Linked DNA regions of Homo sapiens: region 1 is linked to region 2. Evidence: fine-mapped expression QTL. A gene starts in region 2. The other region holds a variant in brackets. All regions are shown on one strand. Distances are from middle to middle.

Region 1 (8,350 bases), 520 kb before region 2:
TAGATATATAAACATTTTGCTAAATTGCCCTTCTTCCTTCACCACAGCCCATACTTCTTTCTTATCAGTGTTTCTATGTTGAATTTTTCTACTCATTAACTATATATTGGGCACACACTATGTGTTAGGCTCTGAGTCTGGACCTGGTGATTCGAGGTGGAATAAAATAGGCCAGACTTGCAGACTCCATTTCCAGGATCACTACATTAATTTAGAGTCTTACCATTTTTCTTTTACTGTAGATTTTCAAGCCAATCTTTCTGACCTTTCTCCCTGCATTCTCTCTCACTTCAATCTCTACCATAAACTGACATCAAAATGTCAGTGATCTAGATATAAAATATAACCATACCTCACATTATGAAACATAAACATATTAAATTGTTGCTTTTTGTCTAAATATTTTGGCTGCAAATGAAATAATCTAAATTCAAATTAAATTATGCAAAATGGGATTTTTTTTTTGTACTGCCTTACAAACTGAAAATTTAAATGGCATTTTGGTTTCAGATTATACTCTGGCTGTAGTGGCAGTTCTTTCAATCATTATGGCAATGTTTCTGAGATGTGTTTTTAGTGAATCAACATAGGTAATGTAAATCAATGAAAATGACCGAAGTGAGTGAGTCTCAAGTATTTTAGGACTTTTTTTTTTTTTTTTTTTGCCAAAATTAAGGACCACATGCCCTGGAGGCCTTTATCCAAAGATGATTTTGAGAGCTTAAATATTTGAATGGGAAAGGGTGTATATTGGGGGAAGAGAAAGAAATTTAAAAAATGTGTGGGGAGATAAGAGACAAAGGGTTGCATTCTGTTGAGTCTTTGATCAGCCTTTTACTAAATACACAATTTTCAAGTAGGGGGCGAGTAAATAGTCACTCATGCCTTTGTCTGGCATGAATCTGCATTTTTACATAATCAGATATGCGTTTGTCTCAGGTGAACAGATGAATGACTTTGAGTTCTGTCCTTTGTCCTGCACTTGTGAATAAAGCTATCAATTTACATTGCCAGGGTGAAATTGAATAGGACTGCTTTAGAGTAAAGAACTTGGGGCCCACAAGAAAGTTCCTTGTGGGAAAATTGTGAGGGAGCTATGTAGTTTTTTTATCTTTGTAGCTGTCTTATTTAGGAATCAAATGGGAGGCAGGTTTGTGTGACCCAGTTCCCAACTTGACTTTTCCCCTTTGGCTTAGTGATTTTGGGATCCTGAGACGTATTTTCCTTTCACAGTAACATCTATTCCTCGACTAGTTGTTGTAGTCTGGGAAAGGAATACACAGCCTTGCAGATGTAAGTTACATTCTCATTCCTGAATCTAAAAGATGCAATCATCTCTAGTAAAATTATAATGATTCAATATGAGAGGGAATTAGTTCTTCAAAATAAAATTATAATTACTTTATGAAATAAATTATTGCAGTGGAAAGAGAACCAGGAATTTATGAGGAAAAAGGGAGGAGGGAGGCTAGGGGCCAGACACTGGACAAACATAAAAGTATAAAAGTATATATCCAAAAGATGGTCTGGAAATATTAGCATGGGTCACCATATTCCTTAGGTTGACTTACAAGTCTTTTTGCAACATTGTACCCGTCTTACTTAGCTTCTCCATGCGATTTCTTTTGAACAAACTTATGCTCCAACAGCATCAAATTATGGTGTGTTCTCTAAATGTTCTATCAGCTCTCTTGTCTCCACATGCCTACTCTGGTTATTCTGTCTGGAATGTGCCCTCTGCCCTTCCCTCCAAGGAAATTCCCACTCTTAATGGAAAAAAATCTCTTGTTTGACAAGACCAATTTCTTTGTTAAATTGTCCTTGTCGCTCAGGCAAAATTAGTTGCCACCTATTCTCTGTCCTCAGTGACACCTTATACAATCCTTTGTTTGGACCCTAATTGAGTTTGGTAACTTTCTACTTAGAGTCCCTGCCTCTTTTGCTATAGATTAAAGTTGAAGTAAGTCTACTTTACTCAAGCTTGTGTCTCTACTATTTAGTATGATGTCTGTAAATACTGGATCTCAATAAATGTTCATTGAATTAATAACATTAAATAAAAGTAAAGGATGCAACATTCAGACTTTATCTTGCAGGCCAAAATGATGGGACACCCTGTTAGATATTTTGTGAAAACAGATGAGACTAAATATTTGGAGAATTTTTTAAAAAACACAGTAGCATTCTATTCCCAAAAATAGTTTCATTCCTGATTTCTTATGGTTTTATCTATTATTTTCCAAAGATTACACATAACATATTTTCTTGGTTTTCTGGCAATATTGCCAATGATGATGATGAGGGCCTTTCTTTAAATACCTTCACCATAAATGGAAACTAATTTCTTTAAAGGTCTTCAAGCACACTCTGAAGGCATATATCCTTGTTTGGCAGTTAGATCATTGTGATCTGCCTCCTCACTGACTTGAAAAGTCATTAAATAAATTAGCAAAAATTAATAACACATATCACAAGTTTCATGTACAAAGGGTCCCAGCCCTGGTCATAGTGTAGAATAAAGTCTCTGCTACATCTGTTTCTGCCTAAAGGTGCTGGGTTGGGTGAAAGGGGGTGGACGGAGTAACAGAACTTAGGGACAGAATGTGGGCAGTGGCAGTGAGAAAGCTGGGTTTCCAGGTGGTTGTAAGTCAACAGAAAGTGGCCGAATATCTTCCTGTACTAGATGACAAAATGTCAAACCTGGATGAGATAAAAGAGATCTTTTGTTTCATTATCCTAAATGAAACTTACAGCACAGAGACATTAAACAAGAATGTCACACAGCAAATGAGTGGTAAAACTGTGACAGGAGGCTGGTATGTATATATATTTGTTCAAAATTTATATCAAGAATACCTTCTAGACGGCTTTTAAATGGCGATGTAATATTTAAAAGATTTACAATATGGAAATAGAGGAATGTCATTTGAAGTATCACATACAGAAAATTTTTCCCATCTATTACTCAATGTGTAGTCGATCCACCCATCCTCTTCTCTGGGGTTTCTCAGGCTGCTCGCAATAAGTTACAAAGCTTATTCTCGAACAAGTTGAAATGCTTGAAGGAAATGAGGGAGAGTGAATGCTTAAGTGGAATTATACCATTGCCACCCTTATTTGCATTGTATTTTGCATATAGAATCAAAGTAACTAAGACAAACTGATGGGATCAATTTTCTATAGGTGACACTCTTTGTAAAAATGATGCATTTACACACACATTAAAATGAAGCCAAATACAAGCTATATCTGGATATGAATAAAAAGCAGTGTGGTACAGTGGAAAAAGAACCAGGAATGTATGAGTTTCTTAACTTGGGTATGCCCCTTGACCTCAGTTTCTTCACCTATACAGAATAATCCCTAAGTAGATGAGAACTTAGGCCTCTTGATGCAGGAGTGAAAGTCCTGTGAGCATAAAGTCAATAGATAGCGAATGTATAAGTCATGCTGGAGCTCTGCCTTTCATGGTCCCTTGATTTTTCTTGGTCTCACTAGTCCCTTTGAGTATTGATGCTGGTGTGATCATTAAAGTATCTTATATTGAACAATGAGAACACATGGACACAGGAAGGGGAACATCACACACCGAGGACTGTTGTGGGGTGAGGGGAGTGGGGAGGGATAGCATTAGGAGATACACCTAATGCTAAATGACAGGTTAATGGGAGCAGCACACCAACATGGCACATGTATACATATGTAACAAACCTGCACGTTGTGCACATGTACCCTAAAACTTAAAGTATAATAATAATAAAATTTAAAAAAAAAAAAGAAGTATAAGTTTCTCTTTGGCTCTTTACTTCTGCTTTTCTCAATAGTTGGAGAAGAAAAAAAGCACACGTTAGTCACTGATAGATCTCATGCCAGTAAACTGTATTTGTTAATTTTTTATGATAACCTTCTTCAAGACTTGTGAATGTGTCCAACCTTCTCAGATCCTCCTTTCATCACTCTCCTTTTTCTCTTGTACTTCTTGAACTTCCTTTGAGTCACTTAATTTCTCTAGGAAGGATCTTCGTTCTTCCCTGCTTGCTATCTGCCTTCCCTTTTCTTCATCCATATTCTGTCACAATGTGAAACATTCCATTTACCACAGCCCAAGTGATGAAAACCTTTTATTCACATATGAAAGTCATCAGAACTGACTGCCTGATGCATATTTTAAAAAATTAATGTTCTGTACCTTCCTAATAAGTGAATGCCCCTTCCTAAAAGCTACATCAGAAAGAACAGCCCCATGTATAAGTTGTTACTATAAATTATAACTAAGCTAAGAGTAGAAGTCAGTTACCACAGAATGGAAAGGAAAATCCCAGACATTTTGTCTATCACTTCTGTTTATGATAGAAGGAATGATCACAGATTTTGAAACAGCATGATCTCAGTTAAGTGTTAACTCTACCATTCTCATGCCAAGACCTGAGCAAGTTGTTCTTTCTAAGCCTTAATATTCTTCACTGCTTTCTGTGGATAAGATTCCCTACCTCATAATTTTTTGAAGATGTCAAGAACTTTAGTTTCATGACTTCCTAATTTTACTGGTGGCTGTAAAAGGGGAAAAAAGAGAAAATAATTCTGATAGACTTTTTAGATATTTTTCCTTCTTTTGAAACCCTAATTCTCAAAGGAATTCATTGACT[T/C]ACTCTAAACATATTTCTAGCATGAGACATTTTTCCTAACTTAAAACTAAGCTCATTTTCACAGTTGCCTCAGGAATCTTTCAATAGTAGTATAGAAACAAATAGAATTGTATCTCTTATTTTTCCCATATCTATGATTTGACAAATCATTTAACTACATATTATTTTGTAGGAGTTTCTTTCATAATGAGTAGGTAAGTTCTTATAGCTAAGCACTTATGATTATGAAAGATGAGCTGATGCTTTCAATCAATCATTCTAATATCTCTCTGATCTCACAGTTATAGATGCCAAGGTGCAGCCACAAACATTAGAAGGTCCCTGCCTTTGAAAGGCTTTATGTGCTAACCCTAGTCTTATCTGAGGACTAAGACACTGGTCCGTAGAGGTCTAGATGTATCTCTTTAGCATTATAGGTTTATAGTCAATCTAAAGAAGTAAAGTTTCAGAAGGTGTCACTTTAACAGAACTTTTCCAAAGCCCTTGAGGAGGCCTTAAAAATGTGTTTACTTGTTCATAATATTTTAGCGCTTTATTCAGGAATGATTGACATACAATGAATTGTGCATATTTATGAATTATTTATTTATTTTGAGACAAGATCTTTCTCTGTCACCCAGGCTGGAGTGCAGTGATGCGATCATGGCTCACTACAGCCTCCGTCTCTCAGGCTCAGGTGATCCTCCCACCTCAGCCTTCTGAGTAACTGGGGCTACAGGCGTGCGCCACTATGCCTGACTAAATTTATTTATTTTTAGTGAAGATGAGGTCTCACCATGTTGCCCAGGCTGTCCTCAAACTCTTGAGCTCAAGTGATCCTCCTGCCTTCACCCCAAAGTGCTGGGATTACCGGCATGAATCATCATGCTGGGCTTGTGCATATTTAAATGCATGGTACATTTCTTCATTTGTTTTAGGTTTTATAGCTTTTAGGTATAGGCCTTGAACATCATTTTTCAGATTTGTACCTAAATATATCATATTTTATACTATTACAACATATTTAAAAATTTTAATGTATTCATTCCTTGCTACTATCTAGAAATATAATTTTTAGATATTAATTTTTGTACACTATGACCATGATAAACTTACTAGTTAGTTATACTAGCATTTTTGTAAATTGCAATGAATTTTCTGAAGAGTTGGTTATTTAGTCCATGAATAAAAACAGTTTACATTTTTTCTTTCCAACTTGGAAATCTTTCATTTCTTCTTCTCGCCATGTTGCACTACTAGAACCTCATGTATGATGCTAAACAAAAATGGCAAAAAAGGGGCCAGCACTTTGGGAGGCCAAGGCGGGTGGATCACCTGAGGTCAGGAGTTCATGACCAGCCTGACCAACATGGTGAAACCCTATCTCTACTAAATACAAAAAATTGGCCAGGCGTGGTGGTGCATGCCTGTGATCCCAGCTACTTGGGAGGCTGAGAGAGGAGAATCGCTTGAACCTGGGAGGCGGAGGTTGCAGTGAGCCGAGATTGCGCCATTGCACTCCAGCTTGGGCAATAAGAGCAAAACTCTGTCTTAAAAAAAAAAAAAAAGGCAAAAATGGACATCTTTGCCTTATTCCTGATCTTAGGAGGAAAGCATTCTACTGCTCATAAGTAATATGATATAATGATATAAGCTGTCAGTTTGCCAAAGATTGGGTTGAAAAAATTGTTTTATTCGTTTCTAGTTTGCTAAGAATTTTCTTCAGTGATTTTAGATTTGATCAAGTTCTTTTTTTATCCATATGTTGAGATGATCATATGATTTTTATTTTTTGTCTGTGAATGTAACGAATCACATTTATTAAATTTCTAATGTTAATTTAAATTTCTGTGAAAAAAACCTACTTTGAATTGGTGGATTATCTATCTTAAGTACAGTGGTATATATGGTATATGATTTTCTAAAAGAAATTTTGCATCCATACTCATGTGGAGCATTGGTCTCCAATTTTCATTTCTTTTAATATCTTAGTTTTGTTCTCAGAGTAATGTCATTCTCTTAGAATGAGTTCATAAGTATTACTGCTTTTTCAACTTTCTGAAAGAGCTTGTGTAAAATTAGTTCTACTTTATTCCTTAGTATCCAGTAGAATTTACCAGTGAACCATATGAGTACAGAGGATTCCTGGTGGAAAGGTTTATAACTAAAATTCAATTTTGTTAACAGGTTAACAAAATAATTAGGTTAATAATAGTCATGTAATTAGGCTACTCAATTTCTTTATTTCTTCTTGAGTGTGTATGTTGGTTAATTTTATGCGTCAATCTGACAAGGCCACCGGGTGCCTCGATATTTGTTCAAACATTATTCTGGGTGTTTCTGTGAGGGTGTTTGGGGAAGAGAGTAACATTGAAATTGGTTGATTAACACAAACTGCCCTCTCTGATGTGGGTGGACCTCATACAATCAGTTGAAGACATGAATAGAAGGATAACAAGATTGACACTCTCTCAAGTAAGAGAGATTACCTCCTGCCTGACAGCCAGGTCTCCAGTTTGTCAACTCACTTTGTACATATGGGGCCAAAACCTGATAAGGAATAAGTAAATAAATATATAAATAAACACACACATTTTATTGGTTCTGTTTCTCTGGACACTGAGCTTTGGTAGTTTGTGCCTTTAAAGGAGTGTAAGGAGTGTGCCCATTTCATATAAGTTGTCCAATTGACTTGCATAAAATTGTTTAAGACATGTCTTTAATATCCTTTTATGTCTGTGCAGTCTGTGGTGATGTTACGCTGCCATATCTGATGTTAGTATTTTTTGCTTTCCCTCCATTGTTTCTAATATGTTTAATGCTACAACTCTCAGATCTATTGGTTGGACACACAGTCTCTGACATATGGCTGTTGTTAGTTTAAAATGACAGAATATTTTTAGCTCTAAAAACATTTTGTAGAGCTTTTTTTTTTCTCACCAGAAGTTTCTGAGGTGGCTCCTGCTGCTAGTTTGTTAGAAATAGTATATTCTACAAAAGCCATACAGTATCCTAAATTCAAAATCTTCAGTGAAAGGCTCCAGATTCTTTTTTGAGTCATTGACCTATCTTTCTTCCAGCATCTCCTAGGATTTCATACTTGAATGACAGCTCAATGCACTGATTTAAGTCATAAGAATTATATTCTCATTGAACAGGAGGTATTTTCAAGAACAAGAATTCTTGCCCTATTTAACTCTGCAACCAAATGTGGCCATCTTGAGACCATAAGTAACACCAAAAATGACCCCTTCTCAAGAGAAGCCTACTTGGAAACGGTTAAGAAGGGGTTAAGAGAGAGGGGGTGTGAGTGAAGGAAAGTAGCAAATTATCCTCACACATTCTACAGTGTGCAGAGCTATAATTTTGAAGTGAAAAATTTCCATAACCGCTGTTGCAGTAATTGGCATTAGTAGTGTATATTCTTGGAATTTAAGTGACAATTATTGCCTCTCGGTTCATACTCCTACTTTGTACTAAAATGTTCTGCTACCACGTGCCTTAGAGCTTTTACTCTCAATAAATATATTTGGTTGAACTAGTTCTTTCAGTTTTCTCATTCTTTATTTTAAATTTTTCATCACTCTCGCCTTTTTAAGTAGTCATTTAGAATCTGAGAGGCCCTTAATATTTTGGTCATTGTTCTGTTCCTGCAAGGTATAAAGAGACCAACTTTTGTACAGTTACCTTGTTACCTATGGTGGCTCCTGGAACTCCTGTATGGT
Region 2 (8,350 bases):
AGTAGTTATATGAAACCAGATACAGTATGATTTAATTTATATGAAATGTCAAGATTTGGGTCAATCCATAAAGAGAGAAATTAGATTGGTGTCTGTGGGGGTTCAGGAGAAGGGATAAAGTGGGGACCAGTGAGTGATTACTCGTAGGTACAGGATTTCTTCTGGGCATGATGAAAATGTTCTGGAATTATATAACGATGATGATTTCATAATCTTATGGATGTGTATAAAAGCACTAAATTACACACTTTAAAATGGTGAAGTTCTTAGTACCTGAATTAAATCTCAATAAAGCTGTTTTTAAAACAGCTTCTATATCTCCTAATCCTAGCACTTTATAGAGACTCAGCACAACTGCTTGGGTTTTCTTGATGTTCTTTTTCAGACTTGGGTACAGTTACCACAAACAATGCTTGCTGACTCCAGTGTTAGGACTCAGCATAGGATAAGTAGTTTAAGATAAGTGAATTGCTATCTGTACTAATGTATCTTTAAAATTCATCTACCAATTCTCCAAAGCCACAAAATTTATTCTGAATTTAGGTTTTTATGTGACAATGTGGACAGAATGTCATGGGTGATGGAGATTCCTGGTTTTGTAATTTTCCTAGAAGAAAAGACTTCTGCTGAGAGACACATCTGTACTTGAATTCAAAATAATACTTCAATTCTCTACATCTGTGGGAGTTTCCAGAATCTTACTTATACCTTTCAAGATGTACTCCCCTACTATGTTGCTCTCATGCCCTTCCAAGTTAGATGTCTTTTGGAGAGATTTTTTTTTTTTTCTTTTTGGCTTGCAGTAAATGCACAAAGGCCAACAAACTTTGTGGTTCTTTATAGATATCCAATATAGATACAGTGTAAAGAAAGTTCATTCTGACTTTTTTATTCATTGATATTAGATAATTTGGTTGTTGTTTTATGTTATATGTCTAGTTGAAAGTAAAAAAAACTTAGGTTGGGGAAAGTTTTTTCTTACATGTGTATAATGTTTTTCTCTCAAATAAGCATACATTTTGAAGTAATGCAGACTGAATTTGAATGCCATCGCCACTATATAAGTCTCTGAGTGACCTTGAGCAAGTTACTTAACTACTCTGAAACTGTCACCTTAACTGGAAAAGAGAAAAATACTAGAAATAACTACCACATTTGGTTTCTATGATTAGGACGTAAGATAATGGATGCAAAGTTGTTATATAAAAAATGTATTCTACAAATATGAGTGTTATTTCCTGGTGCACACATTAAAAAAATTGCCAAGTAGCCTTATGTCTTTGTTGAGTATACAACTCAAGTAATCTCCTTCAAAGTGAGCAGGGAATCTATGTTAGAAAACCCTGGCAGGAGCAAACCAGAGTTTTTATTTTACTTGGAATCAGAGTTCTGTTTTAGAAAAGTGTGGTGTCGTTTTTTTCTCTTAAATGATATGCAATTCACATGTTAGTTTATTTGTATATGCCTACTTATTAGGCATATACAAGATCGATAATGTTGTGGATCTTATTATTATTGCCCAAGGGGCTAATATTCACTTTTCAAAACTTATTACTCATCTAGTTCAGCAGCTCAAGATTTTGAAGCAAATCTGTTTTACATACATGTCTTAACCTTCAATCCCATTTAAAAAAAATAGTAAATTAGATGGTTAACCTTTTAGATTTGCATCCTCTTTAAAATAAAGCTTTACAGCAAATGCATTTTTCCTACAAATGTCTTCGAAAATGAGATTGAAGAGGATGTATCATCTAAATTTTTCTGTAAAGAGCTTGCCCCCGAAATAATTGGAACATGAACTGAAACCTCTAGATAGGAATTCCTGGACACAGCTGTCCATTATCTTTCGGGACTTTGGTGCACCTCACCCTTTACTGAACACAACTTTGTGTCAAACACTGGGCTAGGAGTGCTAGTTGTGATGTTTGAGGCAACAGTGGAATTTTTCTTAGGACTTAGTAGAACCAGTTCTTTTTTTTAATATGCATAGTCAGATTTTGATGATATTCAGTCTGCTCATATCTATAATAGTGATATTAACGTCTATTTCACTAGGATGGCTCTTGTGAAGATTAAATTAAATACTGTATGAAGAAGTGCCTTATACACAGTTATATAACCAGGATAATATCCAGATGGAATTCTCATTCTCTCTCTCTCTCTCTCTCTCACTCTCACTCACACACACACACACACACACACACACACACACACACATGCAATATCATCTTATAAATATCCTAGAATTGAATATCTCAGTAGCAGAGATAGTAGTTCTGTTTCTCAGAATTGCTTTTGCAAAATGGTGTTTTGGATTATAATTGTGCTATTTAATTTTTCTAATTAAAATTTCTAAATAGAGCCTATTAAATATTGGATGCTTATGATAGAACATTTGAAAATATAGAAAACCAAATGACCTACAAAACCTCTACCTTCCAGTACCATCATTCCGAGCTGATTACTGTTAACATTTTAATGGTTTTTGTCCGCTAGGTCTCCTTGATGAGTTTCACCTGAGGAAAAGGACTCCTTCAGGTGTGTGAACTTGAGCCACCAGGTCCAACCCCATTGGCAGGTGCTGGTACAGACGACTGAAATCAGAGGAAGATCAGAAATCTTCAAAACCCAGAGCAGCAGATGTCTTAACGGTCCCGAAACGTTCTTTGGTTCTTTGCAGTCAACATTCACGGGTTAAGAAGATTGCAATGCCATGACGGGCTGAGGTTGCATTTCTGGACGCTGCTTACTCCCGCTTCCTTCCATCTGTTTCAGGCAAATCATTATGCAGTTCTAATTAGAACAATCTTCTAAACACTCTCTCCAGAGCGACGTTCTTCCAAACACGGTTTAAGCGGCGAGAGACACCTGCCTAGGACCCTACGCGTCTGGAAGTCTCTCCCAGTGAATTGGGTCTCATCTCCTGCCGAGTACGCAAGTTCAATTATCGGCAGATTAGGTTTCTACTCTCCGTGCCCCGCCCCGCGCCATCCTGGGGAGCAGCGGGAATAAATGATCCGCCCCTGGCCAGTGCTCACCCGACTGACCAGAGCGCAGCCCGGTGACCGAAGCGCACGGGGCGATCGCGAGGCGCCCCCTCCCTCTCCCCGCGCCGCCTCCAGCGCGAGTGACGGCGCGCCCTCCGGGCTCCGGAGCGGCGGCGCCGAACAATCCCCGGCAGGGCTCGCCTCGCCGGTGACATCACTCCTGAAGATACTCCTCGCTCCCAGCGCCTGCCTTCCCCAGGCGTCCGTTCGTGTGCCCGTCTCCGCCTTTCCGCCTCGGAAGAGCGCTCATCACTGGCTGGGGACAGAGCCGGGCACCAAGGAGCGACAGGATCCCGAAGAGAGAGAGAGAAGGCAGCGAGGGAAGGAGGACCCCGGCAGGCAGCAGCATGAAATTCAGCCCAGCGCACTACCTGCTGCCTCTCCTGCCTGCGCTGGTCCTCAGCACCAGGTGAGTCCAGGAGCGTGAGTGACCTGAGGCCAGGGGCGCTGCCGGGGCGAGGTTGGTCCTACTGTGGGTCACCAGTGGGGGCCAAGGCACTTCAGCTGTTTGCATCTCCCGCCTAAGCAAGAGGGACGCTGTATGGTTTGGGCTCTGAAATCCTTCTGAGAGAGCAGAGCCCTTTCCTAGTTATCCCAGCCCCCTGGAGAAAGTCTTAGGATTGCTCTCAGTGAGGGATCAAAAGCTTTCTCTTCCGAAGGAGAGAAAAGACATTTTACCCTCCGGTCCTATTAGTAGCCAAAAGGTAACACGCGGTAAAAGAACAAAATAAAGAACGGAAATAGGCAAGGAGGGAATTGCCACCAGGCAGTGTCTTTACATTGGAGTTGTCTTAATAACCATAGAGCTTCTCCCTTCCCCCAAGTGTGCCTGATTTAAGGAAGAGGAAACCAGAGAAAACAGATTAATCCTGGAAGATGCTAAGACTTGTACAAAAGTTCCTGGACTCCTGAAATGGCATGTTTCAACGTCTTGGATAAGCTTAGTGATAGGCGTTTTCTTTTGACTGTCTTGTGAACAGGTCTAATTAAAGAGCACAGAAGGCGATTAAAAGTTAGAAGACACTCTCAGAGTGCTGATGCAGAGACCCTAGTCAGAAACAATTAAGTACTGTACTCCATCACTGGCCATGGATGGGACTTTAAGCCCCATTACAGAGGAGCTATTTTTGGTGGAGATTTAAAATGCAGAGATTGAGAAGAGTTTTGTGACTCCCCACTGTTGATCAAGTCCCAAAGTTGTGATGGGTTTGCTTTTTTCTTCCACAAGCGCAGCACAAAGGTGGACTGTTTAGTTGCCCAGGACTGTCTTTATTCTGCATGCCCTTAGCATCATATTGGCAGCAACCTCTTTCCCTTGGCTACTATAAAATAAAATAACCCACACAGGATGAAGATCCTTTCAAGTCTACGTGAATAGAAACATTATTTGATTGTGCATCTGATGGCAAATAAAGTAGGGATATAGGGTTGTTTCTAATTCTGAAATGGAAAAGGATGAAGAAAACTTACTCTGTCTTACAAATCAAGGCTGTAAAATTCTTGATTCCGTTCCTAATCTACACACCTTCTTTCAGGCCTGTGTAACCAAACTTTCCTTTTAGTGTAGAGACTATTTCATTTACCCTCAATAATTGATAAATTTAGTCTTTCCTTGCAAACAAAGCCCAGGTGACTTTCCCAGATTAAAATGAAATGTAAGTTTGATTCTTCATTTTCTGTAAGGTTTGCTTGTCACTTCAGCTCATAAAGTGCAGATGGTTTTAAAGAAAACCAGTTTGCTTCCCAGTATTATAATTAGTTGCTCTAAATACAGAGCCCATTTTAATATTTGTGGTTAGCTCTCAACAGTTCAATACAAATTATGCATCACAGTTATTCTTTAAATTCTTGCCATTCACTCTTATGTTGTGATTTAGTCTTCTAGAGAAAGGAAATTTTCTAACTTTGGACACTTAAGTAGATGACAGTCAACACATGCATAAATAATAGGAAATATTTAAACAATAGAAATCCAGCCCACAGTGATTTTAGACTGTGAACATCTCTAGAGTTCCAAAAGTACATTTGCTTTTTAAGGATACTATAATTAAATTGAATGAAAAAGCTCTATAGTCTCTAGCGTCCAAAGATTTAATGTTCGATATCTAATACAGGGTCAAAAAGCCATTATCTTTTCCTTTCATGAAAGTGTTGATTTTGATAGGGATAAATTTCTTTAAAAATAGTTAACACACTTATTACAACAAAAACTGGAATAATCATCTATTTCACTTTAGCTTTGAAACTTCTGCAATGCTTGTGGTATGTGAAAACTATGGTTATTAAATTTTACCAGAAGAGAATGCTGGGCTTGAAAAAGATGAAATATTTATAATAAGTAGCATATCTTATTAATGTGATTACTCTGTAGGAATTCATTTTACTGGATACCCAGAATACCCTGTGATATTGAACAAATATGAAAAGCAATGCGGTACTATCAGTGTCATTTTGCAAAGAAGAGAATATGTTTTAAAGATCTCTAACAGAAGGCCATTCTGTGTATAATATTTAACAGTTCTTATAGGCACATGGTTATTGTGCAGATTAGAACCTAAACTGAGCAGCTTTGAAAGGACAGTTGTGTTAGTAGGGATGAGCTTATTGTCCTGCTGGGAAAAGCTGAGTAGCTCAGCCATGGCCACCTGGGACAGTGGGTTTTCTGGCCAAAGACTTCTGTTAACTTAGTTTCTTAGTCAGTAGTCCTGTATGTGAAGCAAATGGTATTTCACATGTTTAGATCACGCTGGATGCATTAGCAGGTGGTGGTAATTGCTAGTTTTTCCTATAGCCTTTGGGTAATCTCACCTGTCTTTTATTGTCAAACTCTTTCCAAAGTGTAGGGAATGCAGAGCGGAGACTCTTAATGCAAATATATATATATATTTGTTTCATTATATCTTTCTCTGAGTGCATTGCCTTAATACTTTGCTATTTTATTTCCAATAGGTCTGAAGTTCAGTTCTATTTTAAAGTAATCTGTTCAGTGAAACAAATGCTGCAGGTGAAAAGGTAGTCTTTTGACTGTGTTGTGAACAGGTCTAATGGTATCTAGCCCACAGCGACTATCCTGTCTTTTAAACAGAAATTTTTGAATAGAAAACAATCCTGCCTTTTAAATAGACATTTTTGAATAGCTTTCTCTTTTTGCTTGTTCCTCCTTCTCACCTTTTCTGAAGCAACTTTAGATGCTGAAGCACAAAATCCCATAATTTAATCACAGTGAACATCAATGGCCCCCAATCAGAGTTAATGTATTTGTCCTGAAAGAAAGCTAAATGTTCAATTTACACAAAAGCCAAGCATTTTTCTCTGTTTTACTGGTAAACCCCATAGAGTTTTAAAAAACGAACAAAGAAAAAGAGCTGTTTAATGTCCTGGCATATGGTCTCTCCTGCTTAGAAAATGCATATAAATTACCAAAAAAAATCAAGTTAATGATATGAATAATGTAACTAATACAGAAACTCATTTAAACTGTACACAAATAAATGTGATCAAAGAAAGCAAACATGTTGGTTTAATAGCTTTGGAGTAGAATGACTATACTTTTAAGATAGCCTTGTTGTATAGTATTAAATTGCTATTCCAAGGTAGGCAGTAATTCACTTCAGAAAGAAGCAGTATAGGTATTGAAAGTAATGGTAGGGTGAAAAATTCTTTAGAAGTTCTTGGTGAAAAGGGACCCATGGAGTGCTGGAGAAGGCTCATGCTTTATTCTGCTGAACCTCTGTTCCTTTACGCTGTGGTTATACTCTTGATGCCTTTGGATTGTTAACTTTTAAATGACTTAATAAGGAGAGAGACATGGCAGGGGAGGAGTGAAGGTCTATTGACTTCTGGTGGTTTTCCATGAAGCAAGAACTTTGAGCAGATGGTCGGTTATAGTCCTCCCAACAGGAGTCACCTTAGAGGTCTCTCCTGGACTGTCTGATCAGCAGTCACACTACATGTTTATTTTGGAATCTATTTTTAGATGATACTATATATTGAAGATGCCCCGGGCTATTTGTTCCGTGAATTAAACTAACCTCAAGATCAACTTGATTTGTAGAATAAAGGACAAGAATCACAATAAACACAATGAGAACACACAAAAAATATTTTTACCCAAATAAATTTGATGCAAGAAGCAGTCTCACCTTAACTCTCCTGAAATATTTTGAGGCAACATGGGTTTGCTTCCTAAGTCCTGTGCACAGTGTCTGCCACACATGACATTTTACAGGATGCTACCTACGTTCCTTTATTTGTGATAAAAATTGTACCTTCCATGTAAATGAGATAGAGGTATGGCTTTCTTAAGAAGATATTAACACACAAATATTTTGACTTCTTACATTGCAGTTTTGCACCTTAGTCACCTATTTCCAATAGCAGTTTTTAAAATGACTTATCTGGTGATTATCTTTGTGGATTAAATTTTCTCTGTGATTAATGATAGGGACATCTCAAATATTTGATTTGTCTGTACAGTTGTCCTTAACCAAACTCCATGTAATTGAAAGGAAGAACTTGACCTTCTAACTAAGAAGCAAAGATCACTGAAACCAATGAGGAATGCGTGGTTCTAATGAAATAATGTTTTCTGGTGTGTGTTATAAGAAACTATGTGTGCGGCTGTTTCTCAGTGACTTCTAGAAGATTTGCTAAAATCCCTTTTACAAATGGTGCTAAATCATTTAAGTAACCTGATTAAACAGGTACTGTTTAAAATTATGGTTCCTTTTCTGAGAAATCCAAAAAGACTCTCTGAACTTGTCTTCATCCCTGTAGACATGTCTTTGATGTTTCATTATCATGCAGTAAGAATGTGCCTGCTATCAGTCAGTTATTACATGCACCATCAGGGCAATAAAACAATAGATTAGTTATGTATATCCATAATCTAGTCATACATACAAATAATGATATATAAAACAAAATTGGGTAAATAACAACAAAATTTTACACAAATTTCTAAGTGTGAATGAAGCAAAGAGTTAATAATGCCAATTAAGTGGTGTCTGGGGCAACTTCTACTTTCCAAGGATATTGAAAAGAAAAATATTTTGTGATCAACCTCAATATCCTGCCACACTTACTATATGTTATTAGGTAAACTTCTTATCCTCTCTATCCAGTTTTCTGATGTAGAACACAGACCTCCCCATAACACCTACTTGAGAAGGTAACAGCCTTCAATTGTAAGGACTGAATGAGTTCATCCGTGGAAACAGTTTAGCATATTCCCTAAGTACTCAACAAAGGTTAGCCTGTACAGTTATTATGGTATTATTAATATTATTTTTATAAAATCTTTG

Direction of the effects. Alleles are on the strand shown, and positions count from the first base shown. SD is a standard deviation of normalised expression in the study named.
As copies of T replace C in region 1, the expression in tibial artery of the gene that starts at base 3,204 in region 2 goes down (small effect, 0.36 SD a copy in GTEx).

The links. PIP is the estimated chance that this variant, and not a neighbour inherited with it, causes the effect. A credible set is the group of variants that fine-mapping cannot tell apart.
Region 1: its variant is the best candidate, but not a certain one, in a credible set for the expression of LUZP2 in tibial artery (GTEx, PIP 0.90).

The regions. Positions count from the first base shown.
Region 1 is chr11:23,972,527-23,980,876 of GRCh38, forward strand. No RefSeq gene overlaps it. Among named protein-coding and RNA genes, the nearest start is that of LINC02726, 250 kb to the left of the region's middle. The variant T/C (reference allele first, on the strand shown) is at 4,647.
Region 2 is chr11:24,493,850-24,502,199 of GRCh38, forward strand. LUZP2 (leucine zipper protein 2) reads left to right here and starts at 3,204. Exons shown (of 12, transcript NM_001009909.4): 1 at 3,204-3,456. The coding sequence starts at 3,395.